Linked DNA regions of Homo sapiens: region 2 is linked to region 1. Evidence: fine-mapped expression QTL. A gene starts in region 1. The other region holds a variant in brackets. All regions are shown on one strand. Distances are between the middles of the regions. Region 1 holds the start of TCAF2 (TRPM8 channel associated factor 2). Region 2 has its middle 21 kb from the start of CTAGE6.

Evidence for each region. PIP is the estimated chance that this variant, and not a neighbour inherited with it, causes the effect.
Region 2: its variant is fine-mapped to the expression of TCAF2 in whole blood (TOPMed, PIP above 0.99).

What each region holds. Positions count from the first base shown.
Region 1 is chr7:143,617,752-143,626,106 of GRCh38, reverse strand. TCAF2 (TRPM8 channel associated factor 2) reads right to left here and starts at 5,133. Exons shown (of 8, transcript NM_001363538.2): 1 at 5,087-5,133. It overlaps LOC101928466 (a long non-coding RNA gene), which reads left to right and starts at 7,398. Exons shown (of 4, transcript XR_007060573.1): 1 at 7,398-8,355. RefSeq lists a silencer at 5,069-5,228.
Region 2 is chr7:143,732,799-143,741,153 of GRCh38, reverse strand. No RefSeq gene overlaps it. Among named protein-coding and RNA genes, the nearest start is that of CTAGE6, 21 kb to the left of the region's middle. The variant A/G (reference allele first, on the strand shown) is at 4,374.

The sequences.
Region 1 (8,355 bases):
GGTCTAAAGTTCTACTCCTGGCCTGTCAGTTCTTACATGACCTGAGCTATCATTCACTGAGTTCCCATCATTCTGGCTTCCCTGATTGCCAGGTGTGTCCCTGGCCAATGGATGAAATGAGTACTCAGACACAAGTATGCAGTGTAAGAACAGCTAGGTGACTGCCTGGCTGTAGTGGCCAGAGAGCAGCCCCGAGAAGCTGAAGCTGCTTGCTTTTATTTACTGCAGGCATAATGCCGAAAGCCTGGAGCCTACACAATCTGTAAATGACTAACATTTATTGTTCCTCATTCAGAGAACATCATGTGTGCGGATGTTCAAATGTCAGCTCCTGGACAACTTCAAACAAACAGGCTTGATCAAGACAAATTCTCCTACACTCCCTTGTACCTACTCCTTGCCCTCTGCCTCAGGGTCACAGAACAGCTGCCTTCAGCTATTCTCCCCTGGAGCTTTGCAGAGCCTTCCGACCTTATAGAAGGGCCACTCCCTTTCCCTTGGAACATACTAAGCAGGCTTCCCTTCCAGGTTTTCTCACCCTCACTCCTCACTCTGCCTGGAATCTTCCTCTCACAGATGCCCACATGGCTCATTCCCTCACTTCCTTGAGGTCTCCTTTCAAGTGCTACCTACCAGACCAGCCTTCCAAGCCGGCCATGAGCTTGTTTGCACTCATCTCTATTCCCCTTTCATCTTGGTCATCCTCCGTGTTGCAGAAAACTGCATTTCTTTGGTTCTCCTGTTCCCTGGATCCTGGTGGGTTCAGCCCATGGGAGAGAGAGGTAGAAGACTGAAATCAGGAAGGAAGAAGGAAGGAGTTTAAGTGCTTGCTTCTCTCTTCAGGCTGTATTTCTGGTAACCACAGTGTCTTCTCTGAGACTCCAGCTTCTAGCAGACAGACCTTTCATCTGTGGTTCCAGCTCCTGCTGGGAAGGCATAGCATGGCTCCAGCTTCTACCAGGTGGCCGCAGCACCTGGACTTCAGTAATACCACCATCTCCCTCTGCTGGTTCTGCTGTTGCTGATCTCTGGGTTACTTGCTGTCCCCTGTGTGTATTTTCAGCTCCTCTATCATGGGTATAGTCAATTCCCCATACTAAATCCCTTCTGCTAGCAACGCCAACAAATCCTGACCAATCCAACTTGGTCTGACTGATAGGACTTCCCTGAACATCTTAAATAAAATAGCCTCCATCAGCCTTCCTGTTGTCATGCTATCCACTTATATTATCATCTTTCATGGATCTTAGCAATACCTGATAGAGCACATATATATTAGTTTCCTTAATACCTATCTCTCCCCTGGAATACAAACCTCATGATGGCATGACTTGCCTGCCTCGATCTCTGCTAGACCCCCATTGTCCAGAATGCAGCATGATCAACAATCGGTGCTCACACAAACAAACAAATATTCTTTCATGCATTTAAGAGGTATTGATGAGCACTCTCTAGGTTCTATTTACTAGACATGGAGATAAAGTGGTAAGACAAGCTTTTCTATTCAGCTTTGGCCACAGGAGGGAGTGGCAGTGAGGGCCCAGCCTCTCTTGTGTCTTGGTGCATTTTAATCATCCTGCTTTTGATTTGTGGTGGTTCCAAACTGAGTGGAAAATCACCTGTATTGCAATGGAAGCTTGTTGAAGAGGGGAACCAACTCTATTGTTTATCCTGAGTCAGACTCCCTAAGAGGGGAACAAACACTCACCTGACATGGAGTGGGATCTTGGGCACCTTCTTAGAGACCTTGAACCGGTCTCTGTCCCCATAGGTGTCAGTGAAGTACACTCCGGCTACACTTGTCACCTTGTTCCCAGGGAACCTGGAGAGCACCTTGTCAGGGCCGTGCTGGCTGGCCCAGTACCAGGCCTGGCCCCCGATTAACAAGCCCCCTCCATGTTTCACAAACTGGATCAGCGTTGCAGTCAAGGTGTCATTGTAGGCATTGATACAGTAAACCCCTAGGGGCTCTCCTGGTTCTGGCTTGACCTGTGCCTCAAGCCCAGCATCCTGTAGGATGTTTACTAGAGGTGCCAGGGATGGACGCACTCCCACGGGAGCCCCAGGACAGGGACAGAGCCAGCTCACTGCATTGAGGAGAAATGAAGCCAAGCCAGCATGCGACAGGTAGCCCTCATGGGACACAACCACGAGGCGGCCTCGGCCGTAGGAGGAGGCAGCAATGAGCACCTGGCCCTTGTCATTCACCATCACGGGGAAGGCGGCTTCTCCAATAAGAAGGAGTTCACTGGGGATGGGGCCTCTGGGGACATCCCAGCATGTCACTCCATCCATGAGGGCCTCAAACGCAGCAGCAGCAATGGTCGCCATGGTTCTATCAGCTGCTGCAGGGGGAAGCAAAGACTTTCATGTATTTAAGAGATACTGATAAGCACTGCTGGTCAGAACAGATGAAGGAACAGGTGAAAAAAGCAAACAACTAAATGCATTCACCTCCAAATTTTACTGGATTCCCCATTGTGGGCCAAGCACTGTTCTAGCACTGGGAGTACAGCAAGAAACAAAACAGATAAGGTTTCCCTTTTCGTGATTTGAATATTTTAGAAGGAGAAAGATAATGAATAAATAGGTAGATAAACAGATAAATAAAATGCAACAATCACTATGATGAAAATAAAACACAATGATGTGACATGGAGGAACTGGAAGACTACTTTAGATTGGGTGATAGGAAAGGACTCTGACAAAGTGGCATTGAAGCTGAAACCTGAAATGCAGTGAGCAAAGGGCATTCCAGCAACGAGACCACTTTGGGGTGGCTGAGAGCCAGGAGCAGGGAGGAGCAGGACCCCAGGAGGAGGGAGGGACGGGCTAGATCCTGCAGGGCCAGTAAATCAAGGTGATAGTTAAGTTCGTGTGCCTGAGTGGACACAGTGCTTGATTTTTTTGAACAGAAAGGTCATAGACCTGTCAAAACATGCCTTTCTTCTGACAGCTTTGCTAAGTTGGAAAGTGCCCCCTAATTTATCAAATCTGCCCTAATGGAGAGGACCCTCCTCTATTTGGTAGCATTATGCAGTTTCCGGAGGTCTTTTAAAATTGGCTGTGCCTAACACTGAGACTATTTGTCCCTTTAAGCAGCCCCTCTTGGATAAATGACTTCAGTCTCAGTTTCCCCATCTACAAAAAGAGAATAATACAGCCATGGGAAGATTGTTTTTGAAGATTAAAGGAATATGGATAGGCCAGGCGCAGTGGCTTATGTCTGTAATCCCAGCACTTTAGGAGGCCGAGGCCGGTGGATCACCTGAGCTCAGGAGTTTGAGACCAGCCTGGCCAACATGGCGAAACCTGTCTCTACTAAATCTACAAAAAATAGCTGGGCATGGTGGCGTGCACCTGTAATCCCAGCCACTTGGGGAGGCTGAGTCATGAGAATTTCTTGAACCCTGACGGTGGGGGGCGGAGGTTGCAGTGAGCCGATATCGCACCAGTGGACTCTAGCCTGTGCGAGAGAACAAGACTCTGCCTCAAAAAATAAAATAAAATAAAATAAAATAAAATAAAGTAAAGTAAAATAAAATAAAGCAAAGAATATGTCTAAAAATGCCTTGTCTGGGGTTGGTACACATACAGTGAGCACGGAATAAACGAGAGTGTCTGTCCCTTTGCTGTCCTTTTAAGTTTCCCGGGTTGCCGAGGGCAGCGTTGCAGATTGCAGTAGTGCAGTAGTCCCCTGGCTGCCTGTGCCGCCTCCCTTTGCGCGTCTCTGACGAGCCCACTGTAAGGGACTTTCCTCTGTGCTCTGATGGCTTCTCACCTCTGCAGGTGCACAAGGCAGCCCTGAAGTAGCGGTGAGTTGACACTAGGGTGAGCTTCGCCCAGTAGAGCGGGGATTCACAGAAGAGTGCCCCGTGGCTTTCCCGAGGTGCCCATCAGAGGTCCTCGGAAGGCACCCGGAGGAAAGGAGCGCCATGTGGAAGACCCTCAGCCACATGCTCCTCCTGGCTTTCCCTTTTTTCCTTGTCTCATTCTCTCCACTTCCTCATTTGGGCTTTTTGGTCTCACTTACCCCCAAAAAATTACCTGCAGGTAAGCCCTTGCATAAGGCTTTGCTTTAGGGCAGAATCTAAACTAAAACACACACCAAGCCCTTGAGCCACAAGTGCCTCCTTCCTCTCTCCCTCCTGCTTCTATATGCAGTCAACCACCTCATTTGGTTAATCTCTCACCATCTCTCTCAAACATCAGTCCCTTTAGTTGGCAATCATTCCAGACTAAACCAATATGGTTTTAGTCCCCAGGATGTATTCTCATCCACAATCGTCCTCTACAAGAACTCTAACAAGAACCGTTACATTTCGTCCACTCTCTCTAAGGTGAAACTTGCAGAGCGCCTCAGCCTGGCTTCTCCAGGGTCTGGCATGCCAGTGATTACTGGACGTTTTTCCTGCTACTTTCTTCCACTAAATCTCTCCAAGCTCGGAAAGGTTGGCATTCTGAGCATGCCCTGCATTTCCTGTAGAATTCCATCTCTTCCCCTCTTCCCTTCCTATCCGCCACCTTTTTCTTAATACTGCTCGCGGGAAAGAAATTCACAAAAGAGAGCCAATACTCGGCAGAGCATTGAGAATGCGGGTACCTGATCTCAGCCTCAGAAGTTACCAGTGGAAAAAAGCAGCCGAGAGAGATCCGGAAGCCTGAGCTCAAGATCGTGCTAGCTACCTCCCAGAAGACAAGCGACGTCTTTCACTTCTGGGGCAGTACCAGTTTGACAGGATAAACAAAAACAGACAAAAAACCTCAGATGAGTAATATGTCCCGGAAAGCTGACCCAGCATTCCGCAACGAAATGTGCCCTCGTGCACGCACACACCATGCACATCTTTGTCAAATTCGTAATTTACAAGTTCAAATAGGAGGGAGAAACGTGTTTTGAGACAAACTGCAAATAGCACCAGACTAACAAAACGAAATGAAACCAAAGACCTAGACCTAAGAAGGGAGGGACACCCCCTGACGCCGGGTATGGTCTGGGGCCTCCAGCACTTTGCGGCGACCCCCAGTGCCCTAGGTGCTCAGCTACCGCCCCCACCCCAGGACCCGCTGGGATTGGAAAACTCACCCCTGAGCAGTGCGGATACCTAGGGACTGACGGACAGGCTCTGCAGTGGCGCGCGGGGGACGGGTCGGAGGCGAGGCGGGGCGGGGCGGTCCCGGAGGCGGGGCGGTCTCGGAGGTAGGGGCCGTCCTGGAGGCGGGGCCGTCTCGGAGGCGGGACTGTCCTGGGGACTGAGCTGTCTCGGAGGTGGAGTCCTGCGGTCCCGGAGGCGGGTTGTACCGTAGGCGGGGCTCTCTCGTAGGCTGGCCGGTCCTGGAGGAGAGGCTGTTCTGGCGGCGGGGCTGTCTTGGAGGCTAGGAGGTCTCGGAAACTGGGCTGTCCCGGAGGCGGGGCACAGGCTGGGGTGAGGCGGAGCCGACCCTGAGGCGGGCCCGGGGCGCGGCTACCGCTCCCTGAGCCACGCCCGTGGTCTCCCGTTCCATCGGTGGACCCCACCTCGGGCCGTGCTGCGGGCTCTCGGGGCGCCTACCAGGTGAGCGACCCCGCCTTCCCGGAGGGATGCTTTGGCCTGCATGGGGCCCCAAACCGGCTCCCTCAGGGTCTCTGCGGGTTCTTGGATGCGAGAGGGGACCCAGCCAGTTTGCTGTCGCACTTGATAAGAAAAGCAAACCCTAAGTCTCCAATAAACCATATTTGGGGCGAATAGTTCCCTAACAACAACGTATGCCACGGGGGAGGCCCCGCGTGGAATCAGGCTCCCTTCCCTCCGATCTTGGGGTGGGCTCAGCAGAGCCGGTAGCCGCCGCGTCGCCTCCGTCGCTCGAGCCTCTGCGTGGAGGGCTGCCCCCTAGTGGTCAGCTGCGGGCCATGCACTTCGAGCCCGGTGGATGCTTATGGCCATGGTGCGGGGTGCTCAACTAGGGCATTTTTCTCTCAAAGTATCCACAGAAATGCTGCCCAGCAAGTTATATTCTTGCTGGGAGGGAAACGTGCCTGTGGCATCACTAACACAGATTCGTCCGTGCATGGCTGGAGAAATTAAGCTAAAGCTATAGAGTGGCTGGTGCTCGAATTTCTACGCAAGAGAGGTCAGAAGGTGAAAATCAAGGTGGAAGGGTGTGGTCAGGAGGAGGATTTGGTGTAGTCTGGAGTTTAGGAACGTCTTACCTAGGAAAGTGATGACTGTGCTAGAATGAGGGGAAAAAAGTAGTCTGTCTGCATTTTGCCCACCATTGAGTCCTCATTGCCTATTTTCATTTCTGACATAGAATAGGCTTTAGTTTCTTAATAAATAACTAAATATATGCTAAATAAATAAGGATATAGTGAACGTCCAAAAATATCTGTCGAATTAGTGAGTTAATAACTGACTCTTCGGAGGACTAGTGGAAATCTGATTGGCAGAGGACCAAATACATTCAGGTTTCAGAAATAAAGAGCAAGGAGAAACTTACACAGAAAAGAAATTGTGGATAAGACTTGCCAGAATTTGGAATAATTCCGGCTAGAAATCCAACGTGCGGTGAAGTACGTTGAGTTCTTAGGCTTCATATCAGGGAACAACTGACCTTTGGGAGCTGAAGTGGGAGATGGACATCAAAGAAAGTGGGTCAGTAAAGTTCCACGTTAAAAGCTGATTCAGGCCCGGGTGCGGGGGCTCACTCCTGTAATCCCAGCACTTTGGGAGGCCGAGGTGGGTGGATCACCTGAGGTCAGGAGTTCAAGACCAGCCTGGCCAACATGGAGAAACCCCGTCTCTCCTAAAAATACAAAAATTAGCCGGGCGTGGTGGCACAGGCCTGTAATCCCAGCTACTCGGGAGGCTGAGGCAGGAGAATTGCTTGAACCCGGGAGGCGGATGTTGCAGTGAGCAGAGATCATGCCACTGCCCTCCAGCCTGGGCGACAGAGCGAGACTCCGTCTCAACAACAACAACAAAAAGCTGGCTCGGTATCTTTTGTGTGTTTGTACTCTTAGGTTTTAACCAGTCTCCACCTACATCAACCTCACTCCTCATGGTAAAGTACTACTATTGTTCTAAATTAACTCCTGAGAGTATTTTGGTGTTGCTCTAATAGAAGAAAGGGGCTTTAAACAAAGGTGATTTTTCCAGGGTCAGAGAGCAGAAAGTACCTGCCATTTGGGAGCAGGAGCTGCCTGAGGAATGGAACCTAACAACATAGGAACGGCATAACGGTTCCTAAAAAAAAAAAAAAAAAAAAAAAAGAAGAAAAAAAAGATTAAAGATGGTAACCAGCATTTACGTTCTGACTAAAGGGTGTCCGAGAGAGAATACAGTCATGGGTTCTTAGTTTCTGTTTTTGGTTAGGCGAGTAAAACCCCTTCCTCATCCCTCTTTTCCCCTTTCACTAGAGACAGAAACTAAAAACCGTGAGTTCAGGCAGCTAGAAACCTAAAATAAAAGAAAACGGAACAACAACAACAACAACGAAAATAAGGTGGGTTGGATAAGCTTCGAAATGGTTACTGCTTATGCAAAGGTGCAGGCCCCAGATCTTTCCTTTTACTTGGGAGAAAACAGACGCCATTCAGTGAAAGTCAACATATCCTTACTGGACACTTATTCTGTGAGGCACTCTGGGAGATAGAAATGCTATTATGGTCAGTAAATCTAGAGAGGAAAAAAGACAAGAAAACAACTATACCAAAATTGGCTACGAATCAGGTGCAAGGGCACATAAAAGAAGCAGCAATTATTTCTGATCAAAGGATTAGAGAAGAATGTGCACAGAAGGTGACACAGAAACTCAGCTTAGAAAAATGTATATTTGCGGGGAGATAAAGGGGAAGGTATTACAATGTGAGGCTGTATAAGATTCCAAAGCACAGAGATATGAATGTGAAAGGCTTAATTTGAGAAAGACAAAATGTTCATAGTGACTGAAACTTGTTAGCAGAACTTGCATAGTGCTAGCTCTAAAGAGAAGTTTGGGCTCGGTTTAGAGGGACTTTGGCTGCCATACTAGGGAGTTTGGATTCCATTCTACAGTGTGGAGGAAGATTTTTTAAAAGCACCATTTAGTAAACACTGTGGTTGCCTCCTCAACATCTATTCCCTACACTACCCCTATTGTCCTTTCTAACCAAATCCATTTTTTTTTTAAATCAGATAATCCACCTCTCCTTTATGAGATTCAGGGGACAATGAATTCATCTCCATTTCCAAGGATAGATCTGTATTAGCTTAAATCAGGCAGGCTAACTCATACTTCTTGTGCTTCCATGACAGACTCTTTCTGGGTTATACGTAATAAATATACATAAACAATATTATACTTCATTGTCCAGCATATACAAGAGGCAAACACAAA
Region 2 (8,355 bases), 120 kb before region 1:
AGATTACCAGGCAGAAATTCTTATTCTCTTTTCTTACTTTCTCCCAAATGTACAGAATTTCTCTCTCTCTGTTCTGTGCCACCTAAAGCTGGGGGCGGAGTGGCACAAGCACCCCTTTGGCCACCACCACTATGACTGTTCTGGGTTAGACCTGAAGCCAGCCCAGTGCTTACTGGGTCTCACCCAAGGTCTGCTGTAACCACTCCCTGGCTACTGCCTACATTACCTCAAGGCCTTGGGACTCTACAATCAGTAAATGCCAAAGCCAATCAGGCCTATGCCCTTCCCTTCAGGGCAGCAAGCTCCCCTAAGCCCCAGAAGTGGGTCCAGAATGCCATCTGGGAGTCAGGGACTAGAGTAAAAACCCTTAGATGTCTACCTGGTGCTCTCTTGTATTGCAGCTGAACTGGCACTCTAACCACTAGATGCAGTCCTTCCCACTCTTGCCTCCCCTTTCCAAAGGCAGAGGAGCCTCACCCCATAGCCACCACCACCCAGGCCACAAGGAGTACTGCCAGACTACCACCAAAGTTCCCTTAAAGCCCAAGATCTCTTAAGTCAGCTTGTCATAAATGCTACCTGTCCTGGGACTCCCATGTTAGGGCAGTGGGTGCTCCTCTGGCCCAGGGCAGGTCCAGAAATGCTGTCCAAGAGTCAAGTCCTAGAATTGGGGACCCCGAGAGCCTGACTGGTTCTTTATCCTTCTGTGGCCATGCTGGTACCTAAGGTGCAAAACAAAGTTCCCTTTACTTTTTCCTCTGCTTTTCTCAAGCAGAAGTTTTGCCCCAGAGCCACCGCAGCTAGTAATATCCTGAGTCTCACCTGAAGCCAGCAAGCCTCAAAGGCTCACCCAAGGCCCTTGGTGTAGTACTTGGGTATTGCTGCTGGTTATTCAGGGCCCAAGGGCTCTTCAGTTAGCAGGCGATAAATGCTGCCAGGACTGGGTCCTTTCTTTCAAGGCAGCAGGTTCCCTTCTGGCCCAGGGTGTGTGTAGAAATGTCATCTGGAAGCTAGGGCCTGCAGTGGGGACCTCGTGACTCTGACTGTTGCCCTGTTTTGTTGTAGCTGAGCTGGTATCCTAGGTGCATCACAAAGTCTTTCCCACTCTCCCTTTTCCTACCTTCAACTGGAAGAAAGAGAGGTCTTTCCGAGCCATAAGTTGTGCAGCCTGGGTTTATGGGAGGGTTGAAGCCAGCACTCCCTTAGCTGCCCCAGCTAGTGTTTCTGTACGCCACATGCAGTCCCAGTTCACTGTCTCTGGGCCTAGTTCAGCACCAGGACTCACCTAAGAGTTTCAGTCTTTATGGCCCAGACTGCCTTTCAAGTTTACTTGGAGATACAGAGTGTTATAGCCCTCGGTGGTGAAGTTTGCAGGCACTCAAGTTCTAACTGTTGGAATCAGTGATTCTCCTCTGGCTAGGCCTGGTTTAAATGCTCCCTCTGTGGGTGGGTGTCAGCTGAGTTTGGTCTGGTTTTCCTTTCTGCTCTAACAAGACAGCACTGAGTTCAATGCCTCACAATTGCTGTATTCTTCCTTCCCCAGCACCTAGAGACGCTCTCTGCACCACGCCATGATTGCTGAAGGGTGCAGGAGGGGTGGCATACTTGATTTAGGACTGTTTTTTTTCTATCTCTTCAGTGCTTGTTTCAGCCATATGAAGTTAAAACCAGGTACTATGAGGGCTCACCGGATTTTTGGTTCGTATGAAGGTATTTTTTCTGTGTAGATAGTTGTTAACCTGGTGTCCTTGTGGTGGCAGGGCAGACTATCAATGGAGCCTTCTATTCCGCTATCTTGCTTTGCCTCCTCCCCTCTGGAAAACTAATTTTTAAAAAATCAATTCTCGGCCGGGCACAGTGGCTCATGCCTGTAATCCCAACACTTTGGGAGGCCGAGGTGGGTGGATCACAAGGTCAGGAGTTGAAGACCAGCCTGGCCAATATGGTGAAACCTTGTCTATACTAAAAATACAAAAATTAGCTGGGCATGGTGGTGGGTACCTGTAGTCCCAGCTACTCGGGAGGCTGAGGCAGGAGAATCACTTGAACCCAGGAGGTGGAGGTTGCAGTGAGCCAAGATCGTGCCACTGCACTCCAGCCTGGGCGACAGAGCGAGACTCCACCTCAAAAAAAAAAAAAAATTCAAGTCTCCACTAATTGATGCATATTCTTAAAAAATTACTTAGAATCAAAATCTCAACAGGGTTTTTCATTATTGTAGTTGTTTACTCACTTGTTTTAGTGGAATGCAACAAGCTGGTTTAAAAATTTAAATGGAAGCACAAACAACCAAGAATAATTGTGTGTTCTTGACAAAAACTAAGGTAGAATAATTAGCAAGATTTATTATGAAGATATTACAATAGTATAGCATTGGCATAGAGATGAAGAAAAAAAATAGAAAAGAATAGAGAGCCTGCAAAGAGATCCACACAGATCCAGACTTTTGGCCCCGTAGATGAGGCAGAAAGAGTGAACCTTTCAATGAACAGTGCTATAATTAGGAATCCATATTTTAAAAAACTACAGTTGTATTCCTAGTTCACTATGCCCAAAACTCATTTAAACTTAAAAATTTATACAACTCTTTGAAGATAATATAGAAAAATCTCTTTGTGGAATTTGGGTAAACAATTTTTTTTACTCATGGTACAAATAGTATTAATCATAAAAAAGATTAATAACTTTGACTACTTTAAAATTAAGAAGTTGTGTTTATTAAAATACACCACAAGAAGAGTGAAAATTGGCCCAGAGTGGGAAAAGCTGTTGGCCACACATGTAACTGACCAAGTTTATATATCTAAAACATTGTGACATACAGAAAATCCGATAGAAAAATACACAAGAAAATGGAATGAGCACTTCAAAATAAAAGCAAAAATCAAATGTTTAGTTAATATATGCAAAGCTGCTTAACATCATTAGTAATGAGGAAAATGCAAATTAAAACCACAATAATATATTACTATGCACTCATCACTTTGGAAAAAAAAGTATTTCATAATATCAAGTGTTCCTAAGGATCTAGAGCAATGGAAACTCATATACTCTAAGTGATATGATTTATCTTTGACTTGTCTTTATCTACAGCTTGGTTTTATCTAAGAAGGTTGAAGCTATGCATATTCTACGATACAGCAATTCCTTTCCTAGGGTATGCCAGAGAAACTCTCGCACAGATATACATGTAAAGGATGTTTGTAGTATCAGATAGGCCCCAAATAAAAACAATCAAAAACCAATCAGCAGCAAAATAGATTAACTGATTGTATTATAGTTATATAACTGAGTATTAGGCAGAAAGAAAAATGAAGTAGAGCTACACAAATCAACACAGACGATGTCACAGTATTGCACTAAAGAAGCAAGTCATAAAAGATTACATATAATATAACTTTCTTGTATTCTTATACAGTTTAAAACAAGTTAAAACTAAACTATGTAGTTTAAGTTTGTGCACATAGGTAGTAAAACTAAAGGAGCAAAAGGAATGATCACAGAAGTCAGATTAGTGTTCCATCTGGTGGTAGGAGAGGGACAATGAACTTGGAGGAACATATGGAGGACTTCAATTATTGGCAACATTCTATTTCTTAATCTGTTGCTGATCTGATTGTTCCCTTTCTAATTATTATTTAAATTGTACATATGCTTTTAGATACATTTTTTATGAGCACAGTGTATTTCATTAAAAAAAGAATATTGTTGGGTTGCATCTTCTGACACTAAAAGTAAATTGGTTTGGGAAATTTTTATGGATAACACAAGTAGAGAGCATATTGACCAGTCAATTGCTTCATGGGAAGGGTAACATAAATATCTCTTTTAAATTAAAACCACGGCAAGAGACTGTGTTTGCCACAATGGGAACAATTTCACTGTTTCAACTGGTGATCAGGAGCTGAAAGGTTTTCTAAATGGCCACAAGGGAGAGACAAAGAACAAAGATTCTATGCAGAGGACACAGAACTTAAAATGTCGAGGGTTCATTCAAGATAGGAGTGACTTTAATTCCCTTTAGCAGTGCGTGTTATTCCATTTTAACAATATTTGTGAGCAGTAGGAGCTTTGACGGTCCCATTTAGTGTGACCAACCACTAAGGCTTTAATTTTTTCTGAAACTGTTTCGAAATACTAAGTTTTCAAATAAGTCAGGGACTTTAAGGCATTCAGGGGAGGAAATACAAGCAGGGTCATTTTAAATAAAGGTAGGGTCATCTTTAAGGCTGGTCGCTGTTGCTCATGCCGGCAATCCCAGCACTCTGGGAGGCCGAGGCTAGGTGGATCATGTGAGGCAGGAGTTCGAGACCAACATGGCCAAACCCTGTATCTACTAAAAATACAAAAATTAGCTGGGCATGGTGGCAAAC[A/G]CTTGTTGACCCAGCTATTTGGGAGGCTCAGGCAGGAGAATCACTTGAATGCAGAAGGCAGAGATTGCAGTGAGTTGAGATTTCATGACTGCACTCCAGCCTGGGCAACAGAGCGAGACTCCATCTCAAAAACAAACAAAACCACCACCACCAACAACAACAATAAAAACCCACTTCTTTAAAACTTAAAAGTGACCATTATTATTTCCCTAAAGTATTCTAGGGTGATTTCTGCCTCTTGAAATGTCTCCAGTTTGTTGGGAATTTAGATTTTACAGCTATTGGAGCTAATAACCTATGGGAACGTATGTGGTCCCTTATCCAATGCTTTTAGACATAATGAGAGGAGTTGGGGCATCCTTAAAAAGGATAAAAACCTTGAGTGTAAGACCTGCTTCCTCTAAGACTCCATCAAGCTCTTATTTTGAATCGCAGAATCTTTAAAACCCTCCAGTCTAGGTTGGACACGGTCTTGGTATTGGAAAAAAAATCAATTGTATATCCTGAGCGAAGTGTTCCTTGGATGAATGACCTTTACTGTAAAGTAACTGCTTTTTGTGTAACTAGGAATAACCTGATTGGTTTTGGCAGTTGGACTCTGCTTGCTCTGTGATTCAGTATTCAGACACATAGTCTAATGCAGGCAGAGTTACAGGCGATGGCAGATCCAGTAACTCCATAGGACAGTATGCTGGCTGAGAGTGTGGGCTCCAACTTCTAGGGTTGGAAATGTGGCTTCACAGCTTACTAGTTCTCAGCAAAATGAAGAGTGTAATTGTACTTACTCTGTAGGAATGTTGTGAGCATAAATAAATATAAAAGCACTTAAAACAGTTTCTGAAAAGAAGCGGTTTATTGATGATTCACCTAACTTACACTGATATCCTTGGGAGTAAATGTGGTCTGGAAAATAGATTTTTAGGGTCATTGCTTGAATGGGATTATGAAATTATATAAATGCACAATATATTTTTTGTTATAACTCCCGTCTGCTACAATAATTCACGGAATCTTCCCATATGTAACTTTACTAATTCAAACCTGAATGGTCCTCATTTTAACTACCTGTTCAAATGATTTGTTATTTAAGACAAAAACTATGTGGCTGGGAGTAGACTGCATGATCCTATTAAAAGAAGTATCATTTGTGAGGGTGAATCAGTCTCATGCATTGAATATGTATTTATCTAAGTGAAGCACACAGCTGCTTAGGTTCCAGTCTGCAGACCCAGGAAAGCATTGTTCCAACTGAGTGCCTTACCTAAGTGCTGAGAATTTTTTTTTCATCATTGTGAGTGTCCTTGCATGGCTTGGTTCTCCACAGTGGGGCCAATTACACTGGACTTTAATTTCCAAATCTCCACCTAAGTTTTTCTTTTTTAGCAACAGAGAGTGATATGGCCAGGCTTTGTGTCCCCACCCAAATATCACCTTGAATTGTAATACCTAGGTGTTGAGGGAGAGAGCTGGTTGGAGGTGATTGGATCATGGGGGCCAGTTCCCCCCCATGCTGTTCTCGTGATAGTGAGTGAGTTCTGAAGAGATCCGATGTTTTATTAAGTGTTTGGTAGTTTCTCTCTTGCTCTCTCATCACTCACCTGCCACCATGTAAGACATGCTTGCTTTCCTTTTCGCGATGATTGTAAGTTTCCTGAGACTGCCCCAGGCTTGCAAAATTGTGAGCCAACTAAACGTCTTTCCTTTATAAATTACTCAGTCTTGGGTATTTCTTCATAGCAATGTGAAAATGAACTAATACAGACAGTTAGTTGTTTTAGGGCTATTAAGGGCCTAGGAATAAAAAGCAGTGGCTTTGTTGTTGTTAATTCTCCCCTTCCATCTGTACTGCACAATAAAGATGATTGGGTTTTTTTCAGATTATTCTTGATGAAAAGGACAATACATTCAAGAACATTTTATAAATTTGTTGGTAGCCTAGGAAAAAGAAACAAAGGGATCTTTCTTATTGAATTTTAAAACAGAAATGGCTTATCAAACTGCTCCATTGGGCTGCCTTTGGGTTTATCCTCTTGATATGAGGTAATATGATATTTGAAGTGGTGTCTGGGAAGCTGTTCCTCAGGTAAGCTCTTGGTTACTCCTCAGGGTGAGGACTTTTTCTCTCCATCTGTTACTCAACTTCTTTGTTCTCTAGATCTCCAGCTTGAGAGATAGTTTACAATTTCTATCTTAATTTTTTCTCAACACCATTTTTCCCAACCTATGCTTAACATTGCAAAATGATGCTCTCTCCCTTTATCATCTTGAAGAGTTTATAGAGATGATGGTTATATTTTTTTATGAAAAAAGTTTCTCATGGCTTTCCCAAATGAAAAGTGAATCAGTACAAAGAGTTGTGTGTAGAAAATGTAGGAACTTCTGCAAGCTGAGTACGGGACCAAACTGTCCTCCTACCAGAACTGGGAAGTGCACCAATCTTGCACAAGAAGGCTTTTCAAAATGGAAGCCAGGCATGGTACTAAAGACCTTGCAGCAGGAACAAGTTCATGAAAATAATATCCTGAGAAACGCAATCATGCCATGCCTATAAGGAGATAGCATTGACTGAAAAGTAGCTCTCCTTCTTTGGAAACCTTGACCACATTTAACGTCTTGGCTGACCTGCTGTTCATGTGCTAGCTACGTGCTGCTGAGGCCATATTAGCGGGGGGCACTTTTGATCTTAGATGAATCAGTGTATCAGAGATGTACCTGAGCAATACTCAGAAAGGTCTGGTTTCTATTTCAAAGTTTCTGGTGAAGACAGCCTAGGGGCCTGAAGAAATAACTTATCATAGGAAACTAGGTTAGATTCAAAAGTGGAACAACAATTTGAAGTAGGCTAATAGCATCTTTTTGTTTTCTTCTACAGAAATGGAGACTAACAGATAGATGTACCGGTATGAAGGTGCCATGTATAGGCATCTCAGCTGCCTTGTTTTGGAGCTGGGAGGCCATATAAAATAATTTGAATTTTTTTTAGGGGGGTCTTAATTTGTCATTACTGTTATTGTGGGATATATCCCTGTTCCAGAACCTAATAACATGGCAGAACAGGAAAAATGTTAATTCAAAATGAAAGTATCTACACTGTAGTTAACTTTGGCTGGAAATGTTAGCAGAGGAGAGGAATTGACATCGAAATGTAGTAGAAATAGGGCCCAGGAAATGTCAGATAAATACTTTTTTCACCAAAATACAGAAACTCCTGAAAATAGCTTATACTATTCACTGACCAAGTCCCAAGGAAAAGGAGAAATAAGAATTAATGGAAAATTCACTCTCACAGTGCAGCCTGTTTTCAGAAGCTAAAAATAGGAGAATGGTTCTAATCACACTAAAGCTTCTTTCTGGAATAGTGAAACCATTTTCTTGAATAGGGATAAATAACAGAGGTCTTTTCTTCTTCTTCTTCTTTCTTTTTCTTTTCTTTTTTTTTTTTTTGAGACAGAGTCTCACTCTTTTGCCCAGGTTGGAGTGCAGTGGCACGATCTCAGCTCAGGGCAACCTCCGCCTCCCGGATTCAAGTGATTCTCCTGCCTCAGATTCCCAAGTAGCTGGAATTACAGGCATGTGCCACCACACCCAGTTAATTTTTGTATTTTCAGTAGAGACAGGGTTTTGTCATGTTGGCCAGGCTGGTGTGGAACGCCAGACCTCAGGTGATCCGCCTAAAGACAGCAAACATATACAATAGTTGGAAATCCTCATCTAGTCTTCTCCCATTATCATACACTCTTGTTAGTAATGTGTTAATACAATAGACCCCTACACCAAAACTGATATGTGACAGGCCCTGCCCTTGGGGCTGTAGATACAGCTGTGAATAGGGTAGGTCTAGTCCCTGCCCCTATGAAGCTTCCATGTAGTGGGAAAGAGAGATTTTAAACAAATAATTACAAATGTGATGACTGATATATAAAGGAAGTTACAGGTTTTATCGGAACATGAGGCTTAGAGACACGGCTCGAGGAAATGACCT